2 separate regions of the Homo sapiens genome follow, and region 2 is linked to region 1. The links come from fine-mapping of genetic effects on gene expression. A gene starts in region 1. The other region holds a variant in brackets. All regions are shown on one strand. Distances are between the middles of the regions.

Region 1 (2,913 bases):
GGCCACCTGGTGACCACCCCCCACCGGCGCTGACCCCCGGCGGGTTGGGGGGCGGGGGAGCCGAGTTGCGTTGGAAGGTTAAAGTCGCTATTATGCAGCTGCCGCCGCCGGCGGCCCGGCCAGCTCGACAAGGTGGGGTCCCCTCCTCGCCGCGCCTCCCGGCGCTCGCCCCGGCCCCGCTCCCTTTCTTCTCCTCCTAGCGCACTTGGGAGCCGCCGGGGAGCCCCAGGAGCCCCCAACTCCGGGCTCGCAACTCCGCGCCCGCGACCGGCACTGGCTGAGCTCGGGACGCCTCCCGCGCCGCGTGTTCGCGCTGCCCCCGCCCCACGCGGCGCCCCGCGCACTTTCCCCGCCGCCGACCCACCTCGCTCGGTGGCGGTCCCCGCGCGGGCTGGCGCCGCCGCGCCGGGAGGAACGCACTTTGTTCGCGCCGGTGCGGCCGCAGCTCCCGGCGAGCGCGGCGTGGTCGGTCCGGAGCGGGGGGCGGGGGCGGGAGGCGGGGGTCGCCGCCGTCCCCGAGCCGCCGCCGCCGCTGCTCAGCCGCCCCGCGCCCGCGCGCCCATCGCCCGCTCGCACTTGAGTTGGAGCCCAACTTTTCCTCCTTCCTTTTTCTCTCGAATGGAGCCGGCAACTCGTGCTCGGCGCCGGCGGGAGGAAACGCGCTCGCGCTCCCCCGCGCGCAGACACGCTCCCTCCTGTCCCCCGTACCCCCCCCCCACGCCGGCAGCACAACAAAAAGCCATTTACATGCGAGGAAGTGACCCTCGGCCGCACCGCGCGCCCCCGCCGCCGCCGGCCCGGCGGACGCAGGCAAAAGTTGGGGCGCCGGGCGGCGCTCGGGGCGCGGGTTCGGGCCCCGCGGGCGGCGACGCCGGCGACACTACGCGGGCGGCGCTGCGCTCCTGCGCTGGCCCCGGCCCCCTCCCGCCCTCGCCCCTCGCCCCTCGCCCCGCACACGCCCAACTCCTCGCTCCCAACTCCTAGCGCGGCCCCGGCCCCGGCCCGGAGCGATTTCCTGCCGCCGCCGCCGCCGCCGCCCCTCCCGGGGGCGCCGGGCGAACTCTCGCGCTCACCGGGTCGGTCGGGCTCCTCCGCTGCCTAGTGCCGAGGGGAAAACAAAACGCAGAGCGGGCTCCGGAGTTGGCTCGGCAGCTGCGGCCAGGGGGCTGAATCCACGGGCACGGAGTTGGCCGGGGGCGAACGGGTCTCTGGTGAGTTTCAGGGTGTCCGGGTCCCCGGGCCGCCTCCTCCGCGGCGCTCCTTTGTGTAATTTCACTCGATTCAAGTTTAATCCGATAGTTCCCGAGCACGAGCGCGTCCGCACCACCACGACTCAACCCCCGCGCCGCCGCCGCCGCCGCCGCTGCCGCCGCCGCCGCCGCCGCCGCCGCGGCCCCAGCACGCCAGCGCCTGCGCGCGTCCGGCACGCCGCGCGCACCCGAAGCCGCGGGGCCGCGCGCGCCCGCCGCCAGCTCCCTCCGGGCCGCGCCGCGCCCGCGCCCGCGCCCGCGCGCCGCCACCTGACGTCAGGCGCGCCTGGCATAATTTATGCAAGAATTCGGCCGGGGTGGCGGAGGCCGAGGGAGAGGCCGAGAGAAAAGGGGCGGCGCGGAGCTGCTGGGCCGCGGGCCGCGGGCCGCAAGGGCGGGCCGGGCGCCACTTCCCGTCCCCTGGCGGGCGCCGGCGCTTCAGGCGGGTCTCCCCGCCGGCCGGTGCGCTGCTGCCGCGGAGTCTTCCTTGCCCGGCTGCACGGAGCGCTCGGCCGCTGCGCCCGGGCGCGGACTGGAGGGGCTGCTGCCACGTCTCCCGCGCGGCACCTTCCCGGAGCCGGGTGCGCCGCCCCGGGGCAGGAAGCGGGGCTCCGGGAGGGCTGCGACCCTCCTGGCTGCCGCGAAGGGTTTCCGACGCTGCGCGGCCGGCGGCGGCCGGGGGTGACTGGCAGTCTCTGCAGTAATTATCCTTCAACTTGAAATTATTTTCCCACATGAAATTATTCGGAAGGGACATGTTCCATTCCAGATGGGTTCGTGCCTGCTTCTCCACATCGCTTTTCCCACCTCTTCGTGGATAGGACACCGGATCCACTACTTAATCAAAAAGTTTAACTAGATGGCATTGATTTTGTCGAATTTGTTACCATACCAAAAAAGAGAGAGAAGGCAGAGAGCTCAATGATTATGAAACAAAGAAATAGGATGTATGCCCATTATTAAACGTGTCGGGACTAGAATGTTTTACTCATTCTTTGGCCAAAATGGCACTTGTATCTGATTGCATAGTCTTAAAAATCCGAGCCTCTTATTCCATTTCTCTTCCCGGTACAAAATGAATGTTAAACCTGAAGAAAAAAAACTTTTTTTTACTAATTTTTATTTTAGGAAATAGATCTACAAACATGGATTAAGCCTCTTCTATCTGCAAAATACGGAGCAATTATAATGTGTTTAAACCATCAATTGTAAACTTTAAGATAATTTTATTAGGTTAAAGATTGCACTTATTTTAAAATCAGGAAAGGAACTCATATCAACCAAAGATTGCCCTATGGCAGGTACAGACTGACTGGTTATTACTGGACTCCAAAATAAACTGAGAAAATAGCAAAACTATGTAAAATGTACTAATCTCACTCACTGATGGTTACACTACCTGTAGTGCTAAGCCTGTAATCACAATATTGTTATTTGGACAAAAGATTAATCAAAACTATCTCATTAAGTAACTACTGCAACTATTCAATAAGTTTGATTATCCTAGACTTAATCACTAAGACATTGATTTTCTGATTTTAGTAATAATTCTATAAATATATCACATTATATTGTGGTTTGTTAAATGCACTGCTTTTAGCTTGCTTTCATCATGTATTTGAGTTTTGTTCTAAAAGAAATAAATGTTTTAATGTTTAAGGAG
Region 2 (2,913 bases), 60 kb before region 1:
ACCAATTTCACTCATGGCTCTGAGCCTACCATGGTCCCAGTCTGCACTGACACAGAGCAGCCCAATCACCAGGCTCATTATTCACCCGCAGGCATGCTGGGCTCTGGTGGACCAGAATCCCACGTGACCACTCAGAGAAAACTAGTTGAGTGGATACTTTGTGGACACCAACTATTCTCATAACTAGAAATACAACTTTCTCCAAAACTGAAAATTATTTTTACAGAATAAAGTTCAAAATATGCTCTCCTCACCATTGCCTTAAGTCCTTTTGGGACAAGGCAGGACCTAAGCAGGAAGGGAGACAAGTTGGCAGGCACTTGTGTTCGCACCCTACGTGCTTCCAGCGCACTGTGTACACTATGTAACATGCTGCATCTTATTCAAACTCTTCCTAACAGATCCTGTGTCAGATTAAAATAACTAATTTAAAGAATGCGTTGACAATCTAAACAGGAAAGTGTTTTTGTTGAACACTAATTAAATCAACGGCCTAATAAAGACCTAATTCATATAGAGAAAATGACTGAAATCTTAAACATCTTTGGAATTTAACTCATTTTTTTCTCTTTTATAAGGACATTAAGCATTGTGTGATACTAGCTCACTTGAAAAAAACAATATCTTGTTGAAGAATTTCCAAAGTGATGATAAAAACAGGCTCAGTCATAAATTCTACTGACACCCTTCCATAAGAGCATGGGAATGAACAATGGGCTAACCAACACTCCTGAGAACTTACCAGTAAGACACATAAAAATTCTGTTTCTGCCTGCCGTATTCTAACACATTCCTAACAAGGGGAGAATTTTGCTTACAGAAAATGTAAACAACATTCCTGTTCACTGTCAGAACTACAGACATAACACCTGAGAGGGTCTCCAGGCCTGTAGTTTTCAGGTGACAGCTGTCAACTAAAGTCAAAGGTCTCTTCACTCTGCCGCTAACTGCCATGAATTTTCTGATCTACTTTCTCCAAATACAGAGGTCAGATGGGTGAAAATAAGGTGAGCATGAAAGCTATTTTACTGAAAACACGCTGCTTTACTATACAACTATTTTAAAATCCAAAATAAAGAGAAGTAGACATCTCCAGTGCCAGTTGCAACAAATATTCTTAAATACACTCCTAAGAAGGCTAAGCAGTCAGTCATCATTTATTCAAGGCTCATTCTAACTTTCAAAGAAATAAATACTGGAATGGACTTGATAATAGCTTAAACCAGCCATGCAGCCCAACCACTTACCAAAATAACCTTTCAAATTAGCTTAAGGAAAGTAACGTCTACATATGTGTCCTGGGGAGCAGCTTCATCCTCCAGGGTCCGCCAACTGTTATGGGAAGAAATGCTACTGACTCGATGGGGCTCCAGGCCAG[C/T]TCCAGGTAAAAGTGAGCCCAGAGGGAGTGGATGGCTTAGCCCACTGGTGACCTTCTCTTGCAAGCCCACTGAGCTCAGAGGCAGAGGCAGAGTCAGATCAAGCTTGGAGAAGTGGCGATGAAGTTGGTGCTAACTTTTTATCAGCTTAAGATTCAGAAGAGGGACAAGTTGCCTATGCGCATGAGTAGGGAAAAACAGCCCTGCCTGAGAGTACCCATACTGATCCTTGGCTGTGCTCCTCTTCCTGTTCCCTACGCCCTTCTACTAAGTGTCCATCTCCCAGACGCTTGAAAAACGCCAGCATTATATGGTATCAACTAAGCATGTCGCTCGGCACAACTACAACCATGCTCAGGTAAGGTCCAGGCAGAGAAGTTCAAAAACTGGCTTTGCAGTCTGCCATTAGTGACCGCTCACTGGGACAGCCACCAACGCCTTCCTGCCCCTTTTCTGACCTCAAGACCCAGCTGGCAACTATGCCAGGAATCCATCTGGTAGCTGCATTTCATATTTCTGATTTGAGATAATCTAATTAATTTGTTTTGGTCCTTTTTTTAAATTTGATCAAGACCATCTGAATGCCCACTTTCCCAAGTCGCAGCTGCATTGTATAATTTTGTGTTTCTATAAAAGATATTCATTCAAAGCCCTATTTTGAAAGCTTCCCTCTCGTCTACACTCAATATCTAGATTTTCTGTGTCTAGATGAACACTGTTCAATGGGCCACAAATGCGAGCTATTACATGTAATTTTTAGTTTTCTAGTAGCTACATTTTAATAGTAGACCAAAAGAGTGAAATCCATTTTACCAATTTCTATTTAAACCAATAAATGCATAATACTGTCATTTCAACAGGTAATCAATATAAAAAAATGAATAAGCTAGTTTACGTATTTTGGTATTGAGTCTTTGAAACCCAGTATGTAATTTACACTTACAGTACATCTCAATTCCTATTAGCTACATTTCAAGTGAAAAAATGGACATATGGGGCTGTGGCTTCCATACTGGACAGCATAAAGTATTTAAAAAGAAGAAACAGAAATAACAAATTAGCAATGAAATTTTTTAAAGTCTCATAATTATCACCTGGGTAATAAACATTCAAGTTGCATTTATGTTTTATTTGGTGTTACATAAAAATTAACTCTCAAATCACAATTATTTATTCAAAATGTATTTACTGAGCACCTACTATGATCCAGGCACTAGTCTAAGAGCTGGAGAGAGATCTGTGAATAAAACAAAATTCCCTCTTGTCCTCATGGAGCTTATATATCTGTAAATGATGCATCTCTTAAATAAGAACTAAGATTCAGGGCTTATGTTATTAAAAATATAGGTTGCCATTTTACAAAATACTCCTCGGTAACTTCTGATGAGGAATAGTCTAACTAAATGTGAGAATATGTAGCAAACGGTACCTATGCATATAATGGAGACATAGTAATTCAAGTTTCTACTCAGTGCCCTATTGGCCAGCATTTTCTGAGATGTGAACTAAAGGACAGTTCAGAAGATGCATGTGTTTG

The links. PIP is the estimated chance that this variant, and not a neighbour inherited with it, causes the effect.
Region 2: its variant is fine-mapped to the expression of CHD7 in whole blood (INTERVAL, PIP above 0.99).

Annotation. Positions count from the first base shown.
Region 1 is chr8:60,677,243-60,680,155 of GRCh38, reverse strand. It overlaps CHD7 (chromodomain helicase DNA binding protein 7), which reads right to left and starts at 1,416. Exons shown (of 38, transcript NM_017780.4): 1 at 1,074-1,416. RefSeq lists silencers at 1-308, 969-1,068, 1,429-1,868.
Region 2 is chr8:60,737,614-60,740,526 of GRCh38, reverse strand. The region is part of intron 1 of CHD7 (chromodomain helicase DNA binding protein 7); the gene reads right to left. Among named protein-coding and RNA genes, the nearest start is that of CHD7, 60 kb to the right of the region's middle. The variant C/T (reference allele first, on the strand shown) is at 1,379.